Linked DNA regions of Homo sapiens. The protein of the gene in region 7 interacts with the protein of the main gene of each other region in a biochemical or structural test. Each region holds a gene or a part of one and is shown on either strand. Other genes may lie near its edges. The genes, in order: VANGL2, SLC2A4, KIF13A, CORO7, ARFRP1, VAMP4 and AP1M1.

The links.
Region 1: the proteins of AP1M1 (region 7) and VANGL2 form a complex in vitro, tested with the Homo sapiens proteins (one study listed by BioGRID).
Region 2: the proteins of AP1M1 (region 7) and SLC2A4 form a complex in vitro, tested with the Homo sapiens proteins (one study listed by BioGRID).
Region 3: the proteins of AP1M1 (region 7) and KIF13A form a complex in vitro, tested with the Homo sapiens proteins (one study listed by BioGRID).
Region 4: the proteins of AP1M1 (region 7) and CORO7 interact in a test that uses a peptide from one of them, tested with the Homo sapiens proteins (one study listed by BioGRID).
Region 5: the proteins of AP1M1 (region 7) and ARFRP1 form a complex in vitro, tested with the Homo sapiens proteins (one study listed by BioGRID).
Region 6: the proteins of AP1M1 (region 7) and VAMP4 form a complex in vitro, tested with the Homo sapiens proteins (one study listed by BioGRID).

Annotation. Positions count from the first base shown.
Region 1 is NC_000001.11:160,424,564-160,426,866, reverse strand, and holds part of VANGL2 (vang-like protein 2), read right to left. Parts: intron 1,750-2,303; coding exon 1,489-1,749; 3' UTR 1-1,488. UniProt on the Homo sapiens protein: Involved in the control of early morphogenesis and patterning of both axial midline structures and the development of neural plate. Plays a role in the regulation of planar cell polarity, particularly in the orientation of stereociliary bundles in the cochlea.
Region 2 is NC_000017.11:7,280,410-7,284,517, reverse strand, and holds the start of SLC2A4 (solute carrier family 2, facilitated glucose transporter member 4), read right to left. Parts: upstream 2,801-4,108; 5' UTR 2,584-2,800; coding exon 2,551-2,583; intron 1,274-2,550; coding exon 1,157-1,273; intron 1,046-1,156; coding exon 873-1,045; intron 781-872; coding exon 656-780; intron 545-655; coding exon 429-544; intron 302-428; coding exon 139-301; intron 34-138; coding exon 1-33. UniProt on the Homo sapiens protein: Insulin-regulated facilitative glucose transporter, which plays a key role in removal of glucose from circulation.
Region 3 is NC_000006.12:17,981,136-17,984,635, forward strand, and holds part of KIF13A (kinesin-like protein KIF13A), read right to left. Parts: intron 1-3,500. UniProt on the Homo sapiens protein: Plus end-directed microtubule-dependent motor protein involved in intracellular transport and regulating various processes such as mannose-6-phosphate receptor (M6PR) transport to the plasma membrane, endosomal sorting during melanosome biogenesis and cytokinesis.
Region 4 is NC_000016.10:4,361,097-4,364,596, forward strand, and holds part of CORO7 (coronin-7), read right to left. Parts: intron 3,318-3,500; coding exon 3,180-3,317; intron 1,643-3,179; coding exon 1,516-1,642; intron 1,065-1,515; coding exon 889-1,064; intron 374-888; coding exon 265-373; intron 153-264; coding exon 66-152; intron 1-65. Other genes in the region: CORO7-PAM16 protein, read right to left, coding at 66-152, 265-373, 889-1,064, 1,516-1,642, 3,180-3,317. UniProt on the Homo sapiens protein: F-actin regulator involved in anterograde Golgi to endosome transport: upon ubiquitination via 'Lys-33'-linked ubiquitin chains by the BCR(KLHL20) E3 ubiquitin ligase complex, interacts with EPS15 and localizes to the trans-Golgi network, where it promotes actin polymerization, thereby facilitating post-Golgi trafficking.
Region 5 is NC_000020.11:63,701,562-63,704,976, forward strand, and holds part of ARFRP1 (ADP-ribosylation factor-related protein 1), read right to left. Parts: intron 657-3,415; coding exon 575-656; intron 340-574; coding exon 269-339; intron 1-268. UniProt on the Homo sapiens protein: Trans-Golgi-associated GTPase that regulates protein sorting. Controls the targeting of ARL1 and its effector to the trans-Golgi. Required for the lipidation of chylomicrons in the intestine and required for VLDL lipidation in the liver.
Region 6 is NC_000001.11:171,721,566-171,725,065, forward strand, and holds part of VAMP4 (vesicle-associated membrane protein 4), read right to left. Parts: intron 1-3,500. UniProt on the Homo sapiens protein: Involved in the pathway that functions to remove an inhibitor (probably synaptotagmin-4) of calcium-triggered exocytosis during the maturation of secretory granules.
Region 7 is NC_000019.10:16,204,411-16,207,910, reverse strand, and holds part of AP1M1 (AP-1 complex subunit mu-1), read right to left. Parts: intron 1,571-3,500; coding exon 1,503-1,570; intron 1-1,502. UniProt on the Homo sapiens protein: Subunit of clathrin-associated adaptor protein complex 1 that plays a role in protein sorting in the trans-Golgi network (TGN) and endosomes.

The DNA.
Region 1 (2,303 bases), on a different chromosome or scaffold from region 7:
TTTCAGGGAAAAGAAGGGCCTACAAAAGGACACTGTGAGTTACTCAGAGGAATGGCCTAGTCATTGCAGCCATCAGAAAGGTCCTCCATGTGGATCCTGGCTGGATGTATATGGGTACTTCCTAATTCTACTCTCCTTGGCAAAAATGTCTGAGTCAAAGGCTCAGATTTATATTGAAAATATTTATTAGAGGGCCAGCAAATTTTGCTCAAAATGAGATCTAAATTATCAAGAATTTGGATTTGGTGCAAAGACTATGGAAGCTAAAATGGGGTGAGGGGTGAAGTACCTACAAAAGGCAGTAATCCTTGCCCCTCAACCCAATACAGACGGAGCCCAGAGCTCAGAGAATCAGGCAGGGAGAAAAGGGGTGGGGACCCTGGAAGGCCAAGGAAACGAGACCCCTGAGGCAAAGAACTGGACTTAAGGCAGGGGATGAGGAGGAGCTGCCGGCTCTTCCCCAAAAGAGATGAGGCAACAGGTCTCTGGAGTCGAGAGAAGGCGGCAGGACAGGGGTGGCTGGTGACAAAAATAAAAACATTTGTCTAAGACCACAGGGGCTGGGTCAGGGTCTGCAAGCCACTATGTCTGTACAGGAGTCTACATACCATCCTTCACTGGGAAGAGCGGGGACGAAAGTGAGGGTAGGGTTAGGGAGCAGGAGTCAGTGATGGGGGTCTCTCCAAAACCTCAGGGATCTATTCAGCCCTCCTCCTCAGGGGCTGCCTAGGAAGACACATTGGAAGAAAGGTACCTTCCCCTAAGTCCCTGGAAAAGTGGTCACAGAGGGTTTCCACGTGGTTGCCTATGGTCACGTGACCATACAAACCAAAAACATTAGGTGGAGATTTCTGGGAAAAGGATGGGATCCTTCTTTGCTCTAAATATATGTGGAAGCAAATGCTCCTAGCAAGGAGATTTCTAACTCGGGCTGTGTGGCAGGAGTATCCCTGCCCTAGAACCCAGGGTTTGTTGTGGCTGGGGTGAGGGACAGGAGGGCCAGTTGCTGCCCTGGAGGAGTTTGGCACTGTGGCTCTCTGGAGTCATGTCCATGTGCCCCAGAGAAACCCTGTTGGGCCACTGAAGAGAAATGTTTTAAGAACTTGGATTTGTGAGTCGGGGCTCAGGAGGGGAAAGTACAATCAGCAGGGCCCTGTGCCCTTTCAGGAGAGACTGTAATCTGGGAAAAGACTAGGGAAAGAAGAGGGAGAGAGGCACTGATTCCTGCAGGGCCTAGAGTAATACAAAAGTTGTTGGTGAGGTGGGAGTCCTTCCCAGGTACTGTTGACAGCAGGATGGTCTCTCCAGGTTCACATGGGGTAAAATAAGGAAGAAGCGAGGAGAGAAGGTGGGGGTGCGTTAATTCAAGTAAAAAAAAAAGAGCAAGAAGAAGAAGGGTGGCAGGAATGTGGCTGGGCCTGAGAACCAAGCCCCCTCCCACCCCCTCAGGACCCCCCAGAGTTTCCCACTCCCCCTGCTGTTGCACAGTCACACTGAGGTCTCAGACTGCAGCCTCATGACAAACTTGTGTGACTTGGGATCCACAAATTCCTCGGAGAGTTTGAAGAATGGGACCTTCTTGGTGCTGACCACCAGGCTGAAGTCCTGGCGTTTTAAGAGGAAAACGATGCCATCCTTGAGGCCGTTGGTCACCGGCTCCTCGCTCACCAATGTCCACTGTTTGGCCAGCCAGCGTTCCTTGTGGTACTGGATGGTAGGTCCAGCCGCCAAGTATCGCTCCAAGAAGGCCTGAAGTGGAAAGAAGGGGCTGCATAAGAATCTCTGTCATCTACCCACGGTCCTTCATCCCCTAGGTCATAGTTTCCAAAGACAAGAAGGACGTCCCTGAGCTCACTCTATGCATATGAACTAGAACCTCAGAATGTTACAGCAGGAAGGGGCCTGAGATCATCTGCTTCAGACCCTCATTTTATAAATGAAGAAGCCGGAGTGCACAGGGGGATGTGGCTCATCAGGTAGGACTGAACTCGGCTCCCCTGACCCCCATCTGCTGCTCTTCTCCCTGCACCAGGCTGTGACCTGGGCAAGCCCTCCCTCATTCTTCCTTCCTTCCCACACAGCTTGTATGATTCGTGCCAAGCAGGTCTGCACCAGGAGGGAGCCAAAGGTGTCAAGGTTAAAGTGCAACATCTTTAGTTACCTGCTCACCAAGGGTGGCTCAGGGAAAGCAATTCTAGGAAGCTGGCAATAGAGTTGAAGGTGGGCAATGGCTCAAAATGACACAAAGCCAAGACCAGCTAGTGGAGGTGAAGAGGGTAATGGAGGTGAAAGTGGGCCTTTGG
Region 2 (4,108 bases), on a different chromosome or scaffold from region 7:
AAACATCGGCCCAGCCTGTCAGGCGCTTCAGACCTGGAGAAGGGAAGGTCAGGCCTGAGGGGACCTGAGAGGAAGCCAGGTGCTAGCAAGATGAGGCGGAGGCATGGGCCTGGGCCAGGCTGCAGCGGGAGAGCTTACTCTTTCTGGCAGGCCCCTCGAGATTCTGGATGATGTAGAGGTAGCGGGGGCTCTCGGGACAGAAGGGCAGCAGGACCAGCTGCAGGAGGGCAGGTAGCACTGTGAGGCCCAGGAGCAGTGGCCACAGGCTGGCAGTGCCCAGGAGGGACTCCAAGCCCAGCACCTGTGGGAGAAGGTTGGGAAAGAAGGCAGGTCACTCAGCCCTTCTGCCTTACCTTGGAAGCCCACCATATTCTCCAGAGCCCCACTCTAACCACTGCCCAGGCACCCATGAGGCTTGCTCCGGTCACCTGGGCGATCAGAATGCCGATAACAATGGCCAGTTGGTTGAGCGTCCCCAGGGCGCCCCGCAGGTGAGTGGGAGCAATCTCCCCCACGTACATGGGCACCAGCCCTGATGTCAGCCCTGGGCGAGGGAAGAAGAGAGGGCTGAGGGCAGGTGTCCATTCCCATCTGAAAGCCCAGGCATGGTGAAAGAGAACAGGGCGCTAGGCAGGGCTGTGGTGCCCGTGAGTACCTGAGTAGGCGCCAATGAGGAATCGTCCAAGGATGAGCATTTCATAGGAGGCAGCAGCATTGGCCAGGCCCATGAGGCTGCCCCCCAGCACCGCCAGGACATTGTTGACCAGCATGGCCCTTTTCCTGGCAGGCAGACAGAGTGAGGCTGTGAGGGTGAGGGCACCCAGCAGTGGCTCCCTTCCTGTTTCCCCCACCCCTGCCCTCCAGCTGCGAACCTTCCAAGCCACTGAGAGATGATACCAATGAGGAAGGAGGAAATCATGCCGCCCACGGAAAAGATGGCCACGGAGAGGGCCCAGAGGGTGGTGAGGGTGCCTGGAGGGATGGAGCTGGGTCCCTCAGGCCCCTGCCTCCCCAGCCACGTCTCATTGTAGCTCTGTTCAATCACCTGGGGGACAGCAGAGGACAGATTTCCTGCAGACCGTCCCCTTTCCACCACCCCCGAGACACCTGTCCTCCTCGTTTGGGTACCCCCACCCTGCCAGCTGCAGGCCCTCACCTTCTGAGGGGCATTGATGACCCCAATGTTGTACCCAAACTGCAGGGAGCCAAGCACCGCAGAGAACACAGCAAGGACCAGGGTCCCAGTCACTCGCTGCTGAGGGGGTTCCCCATCCTGAACAGGCAGACACAAAGACACAGCATGTCACATGGAACCATGATTTTTTTCCTTCCGCTAGGGGCCCGGGCCCAGCTGGAGCCTGAAGATACTGGGCTCCACCCAACATGTTGGGTGAGGGAAACTGGGCCATATTAGGAATTGCACAAAGATCTCAATGTAAACAGGAGCTGAACTGCAACCTGGGCATAAAGGAGAAACTGGATGTTTGGGTCCATAAGGCAGAGAAATGTTTGAGAACTTGTCTCAAAATTCTTCTGTGACCTTGAGACAGGCTTGGCCTTAAGAGCTCAGATTTGTGTGACCTTGGCCAAGTCACTTCCCTGCCCCGAACCTGAGTGTCCTCTGTGAGATGGGGGTGATGTTGCCTGCCTTGCCTACCTATCTGTGAGAGTGTTGTGAAAATCAACATCACATGTTAACAATATCCTTGACAGTGCTGGTTTCATAAATTAACACGTGCATTATTATCATCAGCCACTGTCCTCTTCCCTCCCCTCTGGGGGTTCTGTCAGCCAGCTCCAGGAGGCCCCCAACAGGACCAAGAAGTGCTGTTCCAGAAAGGACATCCCGGTCATCTAGGGGTGGCCTTCTCTATCTACGTCGTGGCCTGCCCTCCCCCTCTAACCTCCGTGCAGGGAGGGCCGTCCAGGGGTTCTGCCTGGGAGAGCCATGCCCAGGGGAGGAGGGCAGGAAGGTAGTGTGAGGGGCGGTGGCAGTGGTGGCCGCTCGCTGGCGGCACAGACTGTCTCCAAGCGGAAACCTGAGCTGGAGGAGGGGGGGCTGACAGTCCCCTCTGCCCCTCCACCAACCATGGGGCCAAGGGAAAGTTCAGCGTCCTGGAGGGCGGCCAGGAGTGGGGGTGGGGGCCCACGGAGAGCCTCCGGTCCTCGAAACACTGCCCGTGAGCGAAGACGGACGGACAGCTCCCGGAGGGCAAGACCCGCCTGGATCTGCTTTCCCGAGTCGGATCGAGGGCAGGGTGTCCCCGATTCCGGAGCGCCGCGCCGCCTACTAGGCAAGGGGGTGAACCCTGGCTCGCAGAATCCACTTGCTGCCTGTGCCCCGAAAGGCCCTCCAGACCCACTCTGCCTTTTGGTAGGATTGGAATCTCACAGTCACGGGTTGTCCAGGCCGGGTATAAATAGCCAGCCCCCTACCTTCACCCCCTGCGCCTGCGCAGGAACCACCCCCAGCTGACCCCAACCGCGACCCCAGCCCAAGAAAAGCGGGACCCGTGCCCCCCCGCCCCGCCCCCTCATGATGAATCCTACTTCGGAGCCTATCTGTTGGAAGCCCGACGGCATCTCGTCTTAGAAGAGCTGGACGCGCAGGGGCGGCGAAGATGAAAGAACCGATCCTGGAGTCTCTGACTCCGGCCTGGAGCGCAGAACCTGCGGAGGCCGCGGGGGTCCCGGAGTGACGTGCGAGGGCGGGCCCGATGGGACCCACAGCCACAAGCCAAGGACCCGGAGAGCAGTGGGGCTCCCGCGGATCTGGTGGAGCGGGGCTGGGGGAAAAGACGCGAGAAGCCCCCGCCACCTCGCTCCTGCCCCCGCGGGCCACGCCCTTCACAGCACCCATTGGCCAGGAGCCCGCACACCCCAGAAGGCCACGCCCCCTCCGCCTGGGGTTTAGAGTTTGGCTGGAGTTGGTGGGGCGGGCCAATGAGGCCACGCCCCTCCGCGTGGCTGGCGAGACACGCCTCTCGGGTTCCCGCCAGCCTCCGACTGGGAAGTTTTGAGAAAAGAGTCCCTGGAACAAAAGGCCCCGCCCACCCACGTGTTAGGACTCCGCCCACCAGCTAGGATCCCGGGCTGCAGAAGCATCTTAAACTCTGCGGGTCTGGACAGTGGGGTCTGAGAGGAGAGGACGGGCCAGGTGTACTTGCCCCGGGGAAACTCCAGCGGCCTGAGACGGCTCGCGAGCCGGCGCGCGGGTTGGGAGAGGAGCAATGCCCCAAAGTAACCCGGGGCTGCTATTTTTAGCTCCCACGTTGGGAGCCTCCAAATGTCAGGTCCCGGGCGTCCCGGCCTGTCCCAGGCGGGGGCGGAGAGACAGGGAGATGACGCCTTAAAGAGTCCGCGACATGCTTCCCACGCGAGTGTGGCCCTGGGGGCCAGGAAATTCCGTTCCCACAACGGGTCTGGTGGCCGGGCTGCTTGGTCCTGTCTTTCAGCGCCTCCCTGCTCCGGGCACTGTCTATCCCGCCCTTCCCCTACACACATTCCCCAGGTTGGTTCCTGGAGCCGGTCCGAGGGACAAGTGGTCACAACCGACCACACCACCAGCCCTGAGGTCTCTGAGCCTCTGAGGTCTCTGAGCATATGCTGGCCGCGTGAACGACACGCTCTCTGGAGGCTGCTCCGGGTTTGGATCCTCGGCCAAATTCTGCCAGGCAGAAAGTGCGCGACCTAGGGTCGGCGTGTGGGGAGAGAGAAGCCGAAATACCCAGAGCGTGGAGAGTGTCTGGCTCAGAAAACGGGCTTCGGAAGCGCAGGGTTGTGCTGCCACCTGGAGGGCGAGCGAGGAGCCGCAGTGGATTGCACTTGGAATCTCAACCCACTATTTCTCGCCTTTCCGCCACCATAGGGCTTCAGTGACATCTGACCCAGGCCCTTCTCTGGAGCTGCAGATCCAGGTGTTCGTTACCGCCCGGATGTGGCAGCTCTAGTGATCAGCATGTCCAAACCTGCTCCTCCTCCTAACTTCCTTATTTCAATGAATTACCCGCCCAGTCACCCCTATGGTAGAAGTCAGGCTCGATTCCTCCTGTCCTGCGCCGCTCTCCTCGTTTATCCAGTTAGTTTCCAACATTGGTGCTTTGACCTC
Region 3 (3,500 bases), on a different chromosome or scaffold from region 7:
ACTAAACCTATGTTTTTCAAAATATAAGTTTATGACTCATTAGTGGGTTGAGAAATAATTCGGTAAGACATAGCCATTATTTTTTTAATGAATTCTAACAGAAGGGGATAGAAAATAAAAGACATTGCATACAGTTAAGAGTATTTTTTCATAACCTTTGAAATATACATATCCACATAAACAGGTTCATAATGTAAAATGTATTTTTAACTGTTGACTGTCAACAAAATAATATAACCACTCTAAACTACAATGCATTATAATTACTTTTAGTTTTGTTTTTCTTTTTTCTTTTTTTTTTTTTTTTTGAGACAGAGTCTCGCTCTGTCGCCAGGCTGGAGTGCAGTGACATGATCTCGGCTCACTGCCACCTACGCCTCCCGGGTTCAAGCATTCCCCTGCCTCAGCCTCCCGAGTAGCTGGGACTATAGTCACACACCACCACGCCAGGCTAATTTTTTGTATTTTAGTAGATATGGGGTTTCACAATGTTGGCCAGGATGATATCGATCTCCTGACCTCGTGATCTGCCTGCCTCAGGCTCCCAAAGTGCTGGGATTACAGGTGTGAGTCACTGAGTCACTGTGTCCGGCCTTATTCTTTGCTTTCTTACAATTAACTCTGTAATATGGGCAGAGAGAAGAATAACAACACAGAAAAGAGAATTCAAAGTCCCACAGGTGATTTTATAATGTGGAGTATTACTGCTTCTTAGGTGACTTATCTTTCTAATTATGTATGACTTTCACTAATATTTAAATTTCTGGTCTACAGAGACACAGGAGCCAAGGAACCATCCTAGAAGCCTTCAGAATGGCGGAGGAAGCCAGCTTAGAAATAAAAACTTGCAATATTTACAGACTGAATAGCCCTTATCTAAAATGCTTGGGACCAGAAGTGTTTTGGATTTTGAATTTTTCTTGAATTTGGAATATATGCATTATATACTTACCAACTGAGCATTCTTTTTTTTTTTTGAGACAGAGTTTCACTCTTGTTGCTCAGGCTAGAGTGCAATGGCTCGATCTCAGCTCACCGCAACCTCGGCCTCCTGGGTTCAAGTGATTCTCCTGCCTCTGCCTCCTAAGTAGCTGGGATTATAGGTGTGCACCACCACACTCGGCTAACTTTTGTATTTTTTTAGTGGAGACAGGGTTTCACCATGTTGGCCAGGCTGGTCTCGAACTCCTGACCTCAGGTGATCTGCCTGCCTTGGCCTCCCAAAGTGCTGGGATTACAGATGTGAGCCACTGTGTCTGGCCCCCAGGATTTGGAGCATTTTAGATTTCAGATGTTCAGACAGGGATACCGCTGGTGAATAAACTAAAAAATACATACAAAGTTTAGTAAGAGGAAGCTTTCTTCAACTGACCCTCCCTCACACGATTTGCAAGGTGTATTGTTCATCCTGCCATATGGAAAAAATGAACAGGAAGCTAAAAACTTTCATGCTCTTCTACCGAGAGCCCATATTTAGCCCAACATTTTATTTTTACACAGTAGGTTAGATATGCACTTTATTTTGGAGTCTTACCTTACAATTCACTTACATAAAATAATTAAGAACAAAAACTTCTGTAGAAAGCAAGTTCCACTATATTCTTTTCACAGCACAGCATCACTTCCTAAAAGTCACGGGGATCAGACCCGTAAGCCAACCACCTATATTTTAAAAACCACCACTACCATTCACACTGAATGTAAAAAAGAATGAGTAAGTCTTAATATGCTGATATTGAAAGATACCAAAGGGGGCCAGGCGTGGTGGCTCACGCCTGTAATCCCAGCACTTTGGGAGGCCGAGGCAGGCGGATTACAAGGTCAGGAGTTTGAGACCAGCCTGGCCAACATAGTGAAACCCCGTCTCTACTAAAAATACACAAAAAAATTAGCTGGGCGTGGTGGTGGCCGCCTGTAATCCCAGCTACTCGGGAGGCTGAGGCAGGAGAATCGCTTGAACCCAGGAGGCGGAGGTTGCAGTGAGCCGAGATCACGCCACTGCACTCCAGCCCAGGTGACAGTGCGAGACTCCATCTCAAAAAAAAAAAAAAAAAGAAAGCTACCAAAGATATTTCTTAAAAAATATATAAATACTTATTTGTGTATATAGTTGTATTAAAAATGCACATATATATCTGGAAAAAAAGGCATGAGAACTAAATGACAGTGGCTACCCATTTTCCGAGAGGTGAAGAGATGGGCAAAGTAGGGATGACAGCAGGGGTGAAGAGGAAGACATTTCACTGTGTATGTCACCCTTTTTAGCAAGTTAGGGATTCTCATTCCATTGCTCCCTTCACCCCACTCCATCCCTTCACCCACACCCACCCCACCCCCAAAACTGTCTTGCTGCTGCTGCTTTTTTTTTTTTTTTTGAGATGCAGTCTCACTCCGTTGCCCAGGCGAGAGTGCAGTAGCACGATCTCAGCTCACGGCAACCTCCATCGCCAAGGCTCAGGCGATTCTCCTGCCTTAGGCTCCTAGGCAACTGGGATTATAGGTATGTACCACTCGGCTAATTTTTATATTTTTAGGAGAGACAGGGTTTCATCGTGTTGGCCAGGGTGGTCTCAAACTCCTGGCCTCAAGAGATCCGCCCACCCTAGCCTCCCAAAGTGCTGGGATTACAGGTGTGAGCTACCTCACCCAGCCCAGAACTACCTTGCTTCTGAATGGTACTCCACCCCCTCACCTCACACACATACAAGCACCCAGAAGCAATGTGTTGCAGGTATGCTTTCACTTTCATTGGCAAAGGACTCTCTCCTCGTCTTGCAAAAGTGAACCTATGCTCTCAGCATCCATAAGACCACACAAACACCACCTGTCTTGGCAAGTTGACAGGACCTTGGGTAGCATCCACAGCCCCTCCTCAATGCTCCCATCACATTTGCTAAGCCCTTGCTAAGTGCCAGTATGCAGGAGCATGAGGTACAAAGAGAAGTAGGATAAGGTACCTACCTGCCTTCAAGCAGTTCACAGCCTCCAGGGAGAGAAAGAGGAAACAGAGAATTTTGAAATTATGTGGTTCATGAAATGGCAAAAGTATACACCAGCGTAATTTACCACGTTGTATTTTAACTACTTTTTCCTCTCTCTCCTCCTTCTCTCCAAGGTGAGTGACTCTGGTGTAGGTACTGGATCCACAAGTATCTTTGAATCCCCTATGCTGAGCATGGTACTGAAATGATCTGAACTTCATAAATGTCTCCTGGAGAGCAATGCAATGGTATTTTAAGAAACAAATCCATGTGTCTTAATGTTTCAGAATGGTGATCAGTATACATATCAACTACTAACCTGGACCTATGCAATGTATTACAATACTAGAATTTCAGCAACAAAACAAACATCTTTAACCTCAGAGATCCTCTGATCTTTTAGTCCTAGCTACACAGTCTTGGCTTTGGTTTTGTAAAATGGGGAAACAATGAAAGCTGACCCCATCTGTTTTTTTTTTTTTTCCCTGGACGTCAATGCATTCTCACTTGTTTTTACTG
Region 4 (3,500 bases), on a different chromosome or scaffold from region 7:
CAGGGGTGATCAGGAGCCCTTGGGAGACACTGGCCACCCCAGCCCCATTCCTGAGCCTGCCTGACCTGTGAGCACAGTCTCTGGCGTGGTGAGCACCTCTTCCAGGCCCTCTGCGGGTACCCGCCACAGTCGGATCCTGGCGTCCTCACCAGCTGCAGAGGACAGACAGGGGCTCATCATTGCTGAGCCCAAGACCTCTGGGCTCCCCAGCCCCTATCCGGGACCCAGGACCCTCCCTCAAGCCCAGGCACCCAGCCTCCTTACCCACAGCGAGGCGATGGGGGTCAAAGGGGTCCCAGGCCAGATCAGTCACAGCTGCCCCATTCTGCAGCGTGGGCAGTGCCGTGTCGGGCAGGCGGCCAGGCTTCCGTAGCTGTGGGAGGTGCCCCCACCCCGAGGCCCATCAGTACCAGGCAGAAAAGCCAGTCCCCAGGGGCTGCGGGCAAGCAGCATGTCTGGGAGCCCACCCTCTGCAGCAGAGGCTCCCACCGCTGGGTGACCCAAGCTCTCTGCCCTGACCACCTTGCGCTCTGAGCCCCAAGTGCCAACCACAAGGCCCCAGAGAGTGAGGGGGCAGCAGCGTGAACTGGCGGGAAAAGCTCCGGCTTAGGGCTCAGGTGGCCGGGCTTCGGATCCCAGCTCCACCACTTACACAGCTGTGTGACCCGGGCAGGTCACTAAACCTCTCTGTGCCTCTTCTCCCTCATCTGTAAAATGGGGATAAAAGTGGCAGGCCCCATGGCAGGTGGCTGGGAGGATCACAGGACAGGCGGGCAGGAGCCTGACACAAGGTTTGTGCTCCCTGTGTTGTGTGGGTAGCTAAGGCCCTCCGCGTCTTTGCCACAGGCAGGGAACTGAGGGGCAGCCCTGGTGGGGTGGGGCCCTCACCTCAAGCACAGCCACCTGTCCCCCGCTGCTGAGCAGCGGCACGGCCACACGCAGCTTGTTGGCACAGAAGCCGTCACTCTCACCAGGTGTGGTGAGGTTGAGCCCCTTGAGGTTGGTGATGTGGCTGTCTCGGTGCAGGACAGTGCCCTGAGCATGGCGGAACTTGGAACTGGGGCCTGGCAGGTGGCAGGGACATGGAACCACGTGTGAGGATGCCGTCCCCGCCCGCCCTGCACTCTTTGAGTCCCGGCTGCCCACTCCCCTCACCCCAGGTGGATGTACAGCATGGACCTAGGCCCAGGCCTTTGCTAATCCAGTGGATGCAACTCGCCCAGGAATAATGTCTGGAATGATATACCCTGTTCCATGGTGGCTCGGGGAATCTTGGTGGAGCCCAGGGCTTTGGCTGCTCAGAAGCTGGTGGCCCCAGCCGCCCTCCTATTTTGCAGGTGAGACTCAGCCACCACACCCCAGCCCCCAGGACAAATGACCCTGCCAGTGAGTCTGGGTGAGGGGGGTGCCCTGCATGAGGCCTGTGCTCAGCAGTAGGGTACACAGGAGGATGACGGGGAGTGGGGCAGACAGGGCTCCTGCGGTAGGGGTGAGCTCCCCGTCCTGCCTCCTTACCCAGCAGGCTCTGCAGCGACCTCAAACTGGGGCTGGTCCCGATGCCACTGGTGCTGGAGAGTGAGGGCCCCAGGCTGGAGGGCGTGGAGGGCGAGGTCAGCGAACTGGGAGGGGAAGAGAAACCCTCCTGGGGAGGGGCATGGGGTCAGCCAGCCTGCTCCTAGGTGTACTGGCCAAAAGGAGGGGGTGCCAGCGGACTCCAGGGTCACCACTCTGGGCCCCCTGCGGACTGGAGGAGCCCCCACTGTGGGCATGCGACAGGAGCGGCGGGGGGCACGGGCATAAACGCAGACACACAGGGAAGCAGCCGAGCTTCAGACCGCGGGGACAGCAAGTGGCAGCTGCTGGCTCCCAGCCCTGCAGGAGGGTGTGCCCAGTGGGTTAGATCTGCCAGTATTTTAAGAGAAGCCAGAAATCTAGATCTGTATGAAAATTCTTGCTTTTTAAGTGTTTGCCCAATTTAGAAAGCACTGTGCAAGTTCCTTCTTTATGCTCCACGTGTTTCTCTGTCTCTGTTACACTTGACAAAGAAGGTTGGGGCCAGGCGTGGTGGCTCAAGGCTGTAATCCCAGCAGTTTGGGAGGCCGAGGAGGGCAGATCACGAGGTCAGGAGTTCAAGGCCAGCATGGCCAACATGGTGAAGCCTGACTCTACTAAAAAAAATATAAAAATTGGCCAGGCGCGGTGGCTCACGCCTGTAATCCCAGCACTTTGGGAGGCCCAGGCGGGTGGATCATGAGGTTAGGAGTTCAAGACCAGCCTGGCCAACATGGTGAAAACCCGTCTCTACTAAAGATACTAAAGATACCAATTAGCCAGGCGTGGTGGTGCGCGCCTGTAATCCCAGCACTTTGGGAGGCCCAGGCAGGTGGATCATGAGGTTAGGAGTTTAAGACCAGCCTGGCCAACATGGTGAAAACCCATCTCTACTAAAGATACTAAAGATACAAATTAGCCAGGCGTGGTGGCGCACGCCTGTAATCCCAGCTACTCAGGAGGCTCAGGCAGGAGAATTGCTTGAAACTGGGAGGCGGAGGTTGCAGTGAGCCGAGATCGCACCATTGCACTCCAGCCTAGACGACAGGGCGAGACTCATCTCAAAAACAAAAACAAAAACAAAAATTAGGCCAGGTGCAGTGGCTCATGATTGTAATCCCAGCACTTTGGGAGGCCGAGGCGGGTGGATCACCTGAGGTCAGGAGTTCGAGACCAGCCTGACCAACATGGTGAAACCCCATGTCTACTAAAAATACAAAAATTAGCCAGGCATGGTGGCGGGTGCCTGTAATCTCACCTACTCGGGAGGCTGAGGCAGGAGAATCACTTGAACCCAAGAGGCGGAGATTGCAGTGAGCCGAGATCACACCATTGTACTCTAGCCTGGGCAATAAGAGCGAAACTCTGTCTCAAAAAATAAATTAAAATATAGTCGGCCATGGTGGCACATGCCTGTAATCCCAGCTACTCGGGAGGCTGAGGCAGGAGAATCGCTTGAACCTAGGAAGAGGAGGTTGCAGTGAGCCGAGGTTGCGCCACTGCACTCTAGCTTGGGTGACAGAGTGAGACACTGTCTCAAAAAAAAAAAAAGGCCGTTCAGCCGGTGAACACTCAGGGCAGCCACTGCAGTGTCGCTGAGGGAGGATGGGGGCGGCCCTGGTACTTACGCTTGCGTCTGCATCACCCACGGGTGTCTCCATCACCGCAGGCTGGGCTGTGTCAGGGAGGGGCTCCGCAGGGGGCACCAGACAGGAAGTGAAGCTCGGGTGGGGCCGGCAGGCGGGGTTGAGGCTGACCTTCTGCACCTGCATGGAGGCCGGCAGTGGGGAGATGGGGGCATGGGCTGCCCGGTCAGGAGGGCCCCCATGGGAGGGTCAACTGGGTAGGGATGGGGGGCACCCAGCAGGCCAGACTGAGTTGGCACACAGCCACACGGGGCTACCAGGGACTCGGGGAGGCTGGGAGAGGTGAGCCAGCCCTGGTCCTAC
Region 5 (3,415 bases), on a different chromosome or scaffold from region 7:
CGCCCTCCTGGGGAGAGGTGCCCTGCATAGCAGGAAGAGGCCTCTGGGCGCCTGCCCTGAGGTGGGAGAACCTCCAGGGCTGGCAGCAGCAGGTCTGGAGAGGAACCAGGCTTGGGAAGCTGCTGGGGGCAGGGCAGGCCTTGAGAATGGCTCTGTACCCCCTGGGCAGTCACTGGGCCTGGGGTGTCTGGGTGCACACCTGCTCCCCTTGCTGTGGGGGAGGCTGGGGACTCGGGAAGCTGCTGCGGGAGGCAGGGGTGGGGCTCACCTCCACATCCTGCTTGTTGGCCAGCACCAAGACGGGGACACCGCACAGCGCCTCGCTGGTCACCACCTTCTCTGGGGAGGGCAGGAGAGGCAGCGCCTCACACCCAGCATCCTGCCTCTGACTGCCCAGGGGCCCACAGGCGTGGACACTGTGACAGCCACTCCCTCTGCCCCCCCCCCCCCCGTCACCCACTAGGCAGGAGCACTTCTGACCAGACACTGAGCCTGCCCCAGGCACAGAGCTGCCCAAGCTGGACCTGCCCCCACTCACCATCCATCCCTCCCAGAGCAGCCAGGCCGCACTCACCAAACGCCTGCTTGGACTCAGCCAGCCTCTCCTCGTCGGTGGAGTCAATGACGTAGATGACGCCGTGACACTCCGCATAATACTGGGAGGAAGCACCAGGAGTTGGGGCTCAGTCCCCACCCTGCCAAGGGCCAGCAGAGCCAGGCCTGTGTCATGGCCACAGTGAGGGGCTCACATGAGGAAGGGGCAAGAGGGCAGCCCCCAACTGCAAGACCCTTCTGGGATGCATTCTGGGGTTGCGGGGAGATCTGGTGGAGGTGTCCCCAGACGCTGCTCCTGAGAACCTGCCGGCAACCTTTGGCCTGATGGTGGCCAAAGGTGAAAGACAGGGATTGGGCCAGGCGTGGTGGCTCACACTTATTATCCCAACACTTTGGGAGGCAGAAGCAGGAGGATCACCTGAGCCCACTTCACGGCCAACCTGGGCAACACAGTGAGACTCCGTCTGTACAAAAGCTTATGGTAATGTGCGCCTGCAGTCCTAGCTACTCGGGAGGCTGAGGTGGGAGGATGGCTTGAGCCTGGGAGGTTGAGGCTGTAGTGAGCTCTGATCACACCACTGCACTCCAGCCTGGGTGAGAATGAGAGACCCTGTCTCAAAAAAAAGATAGGGTTTGGGGGCTGGAGGAACCTAGACCACAGCCTGGCCCGTTGAGGGAGTGCACCTGTGGGGCTCTGTGCCAGCACCTCGCACAGGGAGGGAGTGTGGCCATGCGGATAAGACTGACCAGCGCCATCTACGAAGCGAGCCTTCCCTGCCAGGACAGGGCCAGAGTCACTGAGCTCAGACCTCTGCAGCCTGGGCTGGTCAGTCCTGGGCTCGCTGGCAACACTCCTGGGCAAGACAGGGCACAGCCCCTGCAGCCTCAGGTACAAGTGCTGAGCCCTGGACCAGATGAGTGCACCTCTATCTCAATCAGAAAAAAACACAGCAAACTCCGCGTCCACGTGGAGCAGACAACAGCTCACATTTGCCACTTTGCCTCCAGGCTGTGCCAGCTCTCCTGTCCAGGCATGAGTGCCCAGAGACCTAGAACTGGATGCTGACCAGGTAGGACAAGCTGGTGGTCAGTGTGTTAAGACACACACACCCGAGAGCATGAGAAGCCAGGAGGCACAGCCCAACTCTCCGAAATCCTTAGGGTGTCTGAGCAGGGAGTACCAGACAACCCCATCCCAGTGCCAGACAAGCTTGTGCACCTGCACTTCCCACAGAGGAGAGAAGCCTGTGCACCTGCACTTCCCACAGTGGAAAGGAGGAGGCCCAAGGCCAGGCCCCCCCACCCCCAGGAACTTCCCACAGTGGAGAGGAGGCCCAAGGCCAGGCGCCCTCCAGGGTTCTGCAGGTAGCGAGGCCCCCCCACCCCCAGGAACTTCTCTGGCCTACAGACAGGTCCCACACAGAGGCCGCCAACCCCTCAAGGGACCCTGCAGTGTGCCGGCTGTCTGCTGCTGACACAAGGGAGCAGGCGGACCCTAAGGTGGAGACCTCTGTGGCAGGAGGGGCGGCTCTGTGGAGGCTGCAGCAAGCCCAGTGAGAGAATCTCCACGTGGCTCCTGGGGCTTCTGAGCAGGGTGGCAGAAGGTTCATGTGCAACCGGGTCCTGGACCATGGGACCACGTGGCCAGAGCCACCCATCACACCTACCAGGCACAAGGTGCACAGCCCAGCAGGGCCGCAGTGGACGGGAGCGACACCTCAGGGCTGAGTGCGGGCAGGACCCAGAGCCCCACGCCCCAGTGGAGGCGTCACAGCAGTGGTCATTGTGGGGTGCCCCACAAGGAGGGGGAAGAGGGAGGTGTCCAAGCGTGGCTCCTGGCTGGCCAGCTGACCCCAGTGGAGCAGTCAGAGGGACTGTGGGTCTGAGTTTTTCTCCCCAGCAGCAATGGGAGCTCCCCAACTGCAAAGTGCCAGCCAGCCTGAGAGACTAGTGTTACAGCAAAGAACCCAGGAGCTGAGGTCCTGGCACATGCCACACATGTGGACACCAACCCAGGGTCCAGCCCCAGGACGAGGCCAATTCGCAATGACGCCCCTTTCTGTGGTGCTGGCTCTGCACAAGGATGCAGGATACAGGAAACCAGGGTGGGAGCAGGGGCCTCCCTTCCGGTCCCTCCCAGTGACCTAGGGGGGTCCCTGCAGCTGATCCTCCCAGCTCTGAGCTCAGCAGGGTCAGGGGTCCCGGCCACTAGAGCAGCACATACTCAGCAGACACGCTGAATGACGAGCCACAGCTGCCTCATGGGCATGACTTGCACCTCATGTCTAGGAGACCCTGGTGGGCAGGAGATGGGGCTGCCATCCCACAGCTGTCCCACAGCTGGGGACCCAGGGAGCCACTGGCCCCACCACGGTGGTGTCTGGAGAAGGGCTCAGACTGCCAGGAAGTCGCACCCCAGCAGAAGTGGTAGTGAATTGGGAGGGCACTCAAGGAAGGGCTGTGCAGCCCCAAGACCAGCAGCAAGGATGGGCTACAGTGGCCCCCTTAAGTCTCCCTCTTCCAGTTTCGCCTTAAGAGAGGCCCTCAGGACCTTGGAGGAACCCCTCTCCAACGTGGAAGTGTGGGTCCACATAGGGCTGCAGCTGTGGCCAGTGCAGGCATCTCTGGCCCCACTGTATTCTTGCTTCATGTTGGAGAACACTGCACCAGCAGATGGTCTCATTTTGGTTTCTGTGGGACCCACTTTGGCTGCAAAGAGCCACACTGCCAGGTCACACCTGCCCAGGGCAGCCCACACTGGGGACCCACCAGGCCATGGTGTGAAGTCCCGGCCAGCCTGGCCCCACATGGCACAGCATAGCCAGTTCTCCTCCAGGGCTCCCTGCTGGGCCAACCACAG
Region 6 (3,500 bases), on a different chromosome or scaffold from region 7:
GAAAATCAATGTGCAAAAATCACAAGCATTCCTATACACCAATAACAGACAAACAGAAAGCCAAATCATGAGTGAACTCCCATTCACAATTGCTTCAAAGAGAATAAAATACCTAGGCATCCAACTTACAATGGATGTGAAGGACCTCTTCAAGGAGAACTACAAACCACTGCTCAACGAAATAAAAGAGGACACAAACAAATGGAAGAACATTCCATGCTCATGGATAGGAAGAATCAATATTGTGAAAATGGCCATACTGCCCAAGGTAATTTATAGATTCAGTGCCATCCCCATCAAGCTACCAATGACTTTCTTCACAGAATTGGAAAAAACTACTTTAAAGTTCATATGGAACCAAAAAAGAGCCCACATTGCCAAGACAATCCTAAGCCAAAAGAACAAAGTTGGAGGCGTCACGCTACCTGACTTCAAACTATACTACAAGGCTACAGTAACCAAAACAGCATGGTACTGGTACCAAAACAGAGATATAGACCAATGGAACAGAATAGTGCCCTCAGAAATAATACCAGACATCTACAACCATCTGATCTTTGACAAACCTGACAAAAACAAGAAATAGGGAAAGGAATCCCTATTTAATAAATGGTGCTGGGAAAACTGGCTAGCCATATGTAGAAAGCTGAAACTGGATCCCTTCCTTACACCTTATACAAAAATTAATTCAAGATGGATTAAAGACTTAAATGTTAAACCTAAAACCATAAAAACCCTAGAAGAAAACCTAGGCAATATCATTCAGGACATAGGCATGGGCAAGGATTTCATGAATAAAACACCAAAAGCAATGTCAACAAAAGCCAAAATTGACAAATGGGATCTCATTAAACTAAAGAGCTTCTGCACAGCAAAAGAAACTACCATCAGAGTGAACAGGCAACCTACAGAATGGGAGAAAATTTTTACAATCTACCCATCTGACAAAGGGCTAGTATCCAGAATCTACAAAGAACGTAAAGAAATTTACAAGAAAAAATCAAACAACCCCATCAAAAAGTGGGCGAAGGATATGAACAGACACTTCTCAAAAGAAGACATTTATGCAGCCAACAGACACATGAAAAAATGCTCATCATCACTGACCATCAGAGAAATGCAAATCAAAACCACAATAAGATACCATCTCACACCAGTTAGAATGGCGATCATTAAAAAGTCAGGAAACAACAGGTGCTGGAGAGGATGTGGAGAAACAGGAACGCTTTTACACTGTTGATGGGAGTGTAAACTAGTTCAACCATTGTGGAAGTCAGTGTGCGATTCCTCAGGGATCTAGAACTAGAAATACCATTTGACCCAGCCATCCCATTACTGGGCATATACCCAAAGGATTATATCAAGGGAACCACCCCCGATAATTCAACATAGGACCTTTTCTATTTTCCCTAAGTGTCGGCTGGTCTGAGTAATAAAGGGAAAGACTACAAAAGAGAGAAATTTTAAAACTGTGTGTCTGGGGGAGACATCACGTGTCGGCAGGTTCTGTGATGCCCCCCTACGCCGCAAAACCAGCAAGATTTTGTTGTGATTTTCAAAGGGGAGGGAGTGTACTAATAGGGTGTGGATTATAGAGATCACATGCTTCACAAGGCAATAAAATATCACAAGGCAAATGGGGGCAGAGCAAGATCACACGACTGGGGCAAAATTAAAATTGCTAATGAAGTTTCGGGCACGCACTGTCATTGATAACATCTTATCAGGAGACAGGGTTTGAGAGCAGACAACTGGTCTGACTAAAATTTACTGGGCAGGAATTTCCTCGTTCTAATAGGCCTGGGAGACCAGGGCTTATTTCATCCCTTATCTGCAACATATAAGACACACATTCCCAGAGCAGCCATTTTAGAAACCTCCCCTAGGAATGCATTCTCTTTCTCAGGACTGTTCCTTGCTGAGAAAAAGAATTCAGTGATATTTCTCCTATTTGCTTTTGTAAGAAGAGAAATATGGCTCTGTTCTGCCCAGCTTTCAGGCAGTCAGACCTAATGGTTATCTCCCTTGTTCCCTGAACATCGCTGTTATCCTGTTCTTTTTTCAAGGTGACCAGATTTCATATTGTTTAAACACACATGCTTTACAAACAATTTGTGCAGTTAATGCAATCATCACAGGGTCCTGAGGCGACATACATCCTCAGCTTACGAAGATGACGGGATTAAGAGATTAAAGTAAAGACAGGCACAGGAAATCACAAGAGTATTGACTGGGGAAGTGATAAATGTCCATGAAATCTTCACAATTTATGTTCAGAGATTGCAATAAAGACAGGTGTAAGAAATTATAAAAGTATTAAATTGGGGAACCAATAAATGTCCATGAAATCTTCACAATTTATGCTCTTCTGCCATGGCTTCAGCCAGTCCCTCCATTCGGGGTCGCTGACTTCCCACAACGGATTATAAATCATGCTGCTATAAAGACACATGCACACATATGTTTATTGTGGCACTATTCACAATAGCAAAGACTTGGAACCAACCCAAATGTCCATCAGTGACAGACTGGATTAAGAAAATGTGGCACATATACACCATGGAATACTACGCAGCCATAAAAAAGGATGAGTTCATGTCCTTTGTAGGGACATGGATGAAGCTGGAAACCATCATTCTGAGCAAACTATCGCAAAGACAGACAACCAAACACCGCATGTTCTCACTCATAGGTGGGAACTGAACAATGAGAACACTTGGACACAGGGTGGGGAACATCACACACCGGGTCCTGTCATGGGGTGGGGGGAGGGAGGAGGGATAGCATTAGGAGATATATCTAATGTAAATGATGAGTTAACTGGTGCAGCACACCAACATGGCACATGCATACATATGTAACAAACCTGCACACTGTGCACATGTACCCTAGAACTTAAAGTATAATAATAAAAAATAAAAGAAAATACTTAAGGATCAATTTGACAAAGAAAAAAATACAACATCTGGACACTGAAAACTACAAAACACTGCTGAGAGAAATTAAGTACCCAAATAAATAAAAAGATATACTATGCTCATGGGTCAGAAAACCAAATATTGTTAAGATGTTAATTATCCCCAAATTCATCTATAGGTTCAATATAATCTCAACCAAAATTCTAGCAGGCTTGCTGGAAACTGACAAGATGATTCTAAAATTTATATGAAAATGCTTAGAGCCTCCAATAGCCAAAAGAACTTTCAAAAGGCAGTGCAAAGTTGAAGGATATACACTACACTACCTCACAACTTACTATAAAGTCGTAGTACTCAGGATAGTGATTACTATGGTATTGATGTAAGAAAGACACATAGAGTCCAGAAATAGAGCCACACATATATAGTCAATAAATTTTTATTGTGGTAAATATATATAACATATATTTACTATTTTAACCGTTTTTAAGCATACAGTTCTGTGGCATTAAGTAATTCACTTAATGAACTGTCATCACCATTCATCTCTAGAACTTTTTCATCTTTCAAAACTGAAACTCT
Region 7 (3,500 bases):
CAGCCTACTTCCCAGGCTCGGTGGTGTGCTACAGGGCCCTGGACCCAGGTTATGGGGCAGGACAGCAGTGGCTGGCTGTGGGGTGGGGCCAGGCTGGAGCCACTGCAGATGTCCCGAGGCCTTCAGAAGCTCTGCGTTCCCATTCTCTTCCCTGCCCAGACACCCGCAGACAGGCAGCCCCTCCTGAGCGACTGTAACTGTCATCCCTTTCTGAGTCTGGAGTGACTCAGGCAAGGACCTGATGAGCTGCCATCTTCCCCATTTCAGTGGAAAGCTTGATGCATCTTCCCCATTTCAATGGAAAGCTCAGAAGGTTAAGGAAGGGACGCCAAAGAAGAGGGGCTGTTAGAAGCACTTTTGCAGGCACAAATGCTGAAGGAAGGAGCGTCACTAAAACAGAAAGGCACAGCCCAACCCTTGGGTGAGGACCTTCCCCTTCCCGCATCCCCCATTCTCTGATCTGCTGACCCCTGCGCGCTTCAGGACTGTGATCACCCGGCCTCTGCTTGGAAACCACAGGCAGCACAGCCAGGCCCAGCCCTGCCTGTGACAGCATCACCGGTCCAGTGAAGGCAGCCCTTGGCCTGCACGTGGGGCCTTCCCAGGTGACCCTCGGCTCCTTCCCCAAGCCCTCACCGCCCAGGCTTGCCCCTGTTCCCCAACATTCTGCACAGGCAGCATCAGTGAGGGATGAAAGCTTTCCCAGGCCCAGCACAGGCCTCCTGGGTCCTGTTCCCCACTTTCGTGAGCCCCACAGCCCACCTCGGCCAGGCCCATCCTCTCCGGGAAGCCAGCAGCAGCCTCCTCACTGGCCTCAAGTCCTCCTTCTGCTCAGCAGCCAGAGAGGCTGCTTTAGATCAAACCACGTCTTGTCAGTCTCCTGCTTAAAGCCCTCCACTACCTTTCATCAGAAGTGGAATGAAATCCACACTCCTGTATAATCCGCCCTCTTCCCAGCTGACCTCAGCCTCATACTCTGCCACACGCACGCTGGCCTCCCTAGCTGCACCACACATACACCTGTCCTGGCGCCTTCACCCTGGCTGCTATCTGTGTCTCACTGGCAGCCTGGGCCTGGCGTGTCAGCTCTCTCCAAGGTGGGCGTCAGGCATCTGTGCCTTGAGAGCCCCCTGGGAGATTCTGAGGTGGGCTCAGCTCTGCAGCTCTGCTGGTTATTCCAGCCCCATCCAGCTGGTCACCCCACATCCTTCCAAAGCTCGCTGACCCCTGCTTGTCCCTTCCAGGGTCAGGGCACCCCTGCTCTGAGCCCTACCTTTTCCTGTTCACTTTCCTTTCTTCCCCACGGTAGGGGAGCAACGTGAGCTATAGAATTCCACAGGCGTGGGGAGTTGGGACTCCCCTTTCCCACTTCCTGGGCTTCCAGCCCCAGTGCTCCCTGGGGATGCCACAGCTCTCTGTAGGGTGGCCAGGTATGGGGAGGTCCACAAGCAGAGCCAAGACAACCTCCACCCAAGCCCACGGCCCCTCCGAGCGAGACTCACCTGCACCACCTTATAGAGGAAAGAAAAGACCAGCGACACGCACGCGTTCTTCTTGGATGTGGCAACCACTGCATGGCGGCCACAGTTAAGGAGCATTCAGAGGCTGGGGCTGCTGCCTGGAAGATCCTGGTTCATGGAGGGACCCCCTAACCCTCACAACCCTCAGAGCCTTCCCTATCCCCACTCCCAGCCGTTTACTTGGCCCATGGTGGGCTACAAAGCTCCTGGTCCAAGCTAGACCTGGGACACAGGAGTCACCAGCCAGATGCGCTCCCAGGCCCCAGGGAGCACTCACTGAGATGGAGAATCACAGGGATGGCAGGTGGCACAGGGCACCTGTCCCGGCGGCTGGGTGAAGGGCTGCCTTGAGCAGGGAGGGAGTGAGGCTCATTCCAGGAGCAGAAAGCAGGACACACTGGCCCTGCTCCTCCAAAGCTGACCTCATCATGACCCTGCTGAGGTCCAGGGTCCCCCGGCCAGACTCTGTGGCAAGCAGCCAGGGCCAATTCTGGCTTCAGCCCTTCCTGGCTTTGGAAACACAAGCCTTGGCCCATGAAATAAACCTTTCTAGAGAAACCTTGATATTTCTCTCCTGTGTAATGGAGGCCTGTGAATGAACTCACCAAGGCAATGTAGGTGAGATGTCTGGCACAGATGTTCCCTTCTGCCACAGGAGCCAGCCCCTGCCTCCCAGGGTCAGTGTGTGCTGGGCGCTTCCTATTCCTTTTTCCCTAATGGGTCCCCGGGCCGCCAGAGAAGGCTGGTTCTTCCTCTGTAGGCCCATGCACTGCACCCTGGACATCCCTGTTCATGGCACATCTGTGCTGCCTGGCTCGTCTGCCCAGGAGTGAGCTCTAGGAGGGAGGGTGGGGGCTGTATCCTCTCCCTTCCCGCCTCACCCCAGCACAGCACAGGGGCCCAGGAAAGGGACGCTGGCCCAGTCAAACGAGTGCTGGCCTCCCTCCTGCTGCCTGGCAATGTGCCCTCCCCAGATGCTTTATAAGCAGGGGCAGTGGGGGCCTCTCACCTTCTCATGGGTGCCTCTCAGCCACGGCCTTGCTGAGCACTGTCCCGGCTGGGGGTGAAACGATGTCCACTAAGCCAGAGGGGTGAGCCCTCCCTGTCTCTTCCCTAGATGCCCAGGTGTGAAATGTGGGGGCCCAACCAGAAACTGATCTGATGGCTCCTGCTGAGCTCAGACCACAGCCACCTCTCCCTCTCCCAATACCTGGGCGGCTTCAGAGGACTGTCAGTTCCCTGGGTTAAAAGCCACCTAGGCCGGGCACGGTGGCTCACGACTGTAATCCCAGCATTTTGGGAGGCTGAGGCGGGCGGATCACGAGGTCAGGAGATCGAGACCATCCTGGCTAACATGGTGAAACCCTGTCTCTACTAAAAAAATACAAAAAAATTAGCTGGGCGTGGTGGCGGGCGCCTGTAGTCCCAGCTACTCGGGAGGCTGAGGCAGGAGAATAGCGCGAACCCGGGAGGCGGAGCTTGCAGTGAGCCCAGATGGCGCCACTGCACTCCAGCCTGGGCGACAGAGCGAGACTCTGTCTCAAAAAAAAAAAAAAAGCCACCTAAGATCATCTTCAGAGCTATTCTCAGGGCCTTCCAGAGCCAGGTGAAATCTACACAGAGGCACACCACAGGGAGCCCTGGGCCAGCACGGCCCACATGGGAATGTGCACACCGGCCACCAGGAACAAATCTTCCTACAATGCAGATTCTGACGGGGCAGGGCTGGGTGGAGCCTGGGATTCTGCATTTCCAAAGGGCTCCCAGCGGATATTCTGGCCCGTTGGCCACACTGTACTGGCAAGGCCCCAAGTGTCTCCAAGAACACAGGAAAGGGCACAGAGCCCATGCCTGCTGGGAGCAATATGCACAAGTCAGTTCAACTGACCCGAATGGTCCTGCAGTGAGGGGTCGTTGTTCCCACTGAACTGTGGGAAGGTGAGGGATCCCCCATGGCTGCTGGAGCTGGGGCTCAAACGG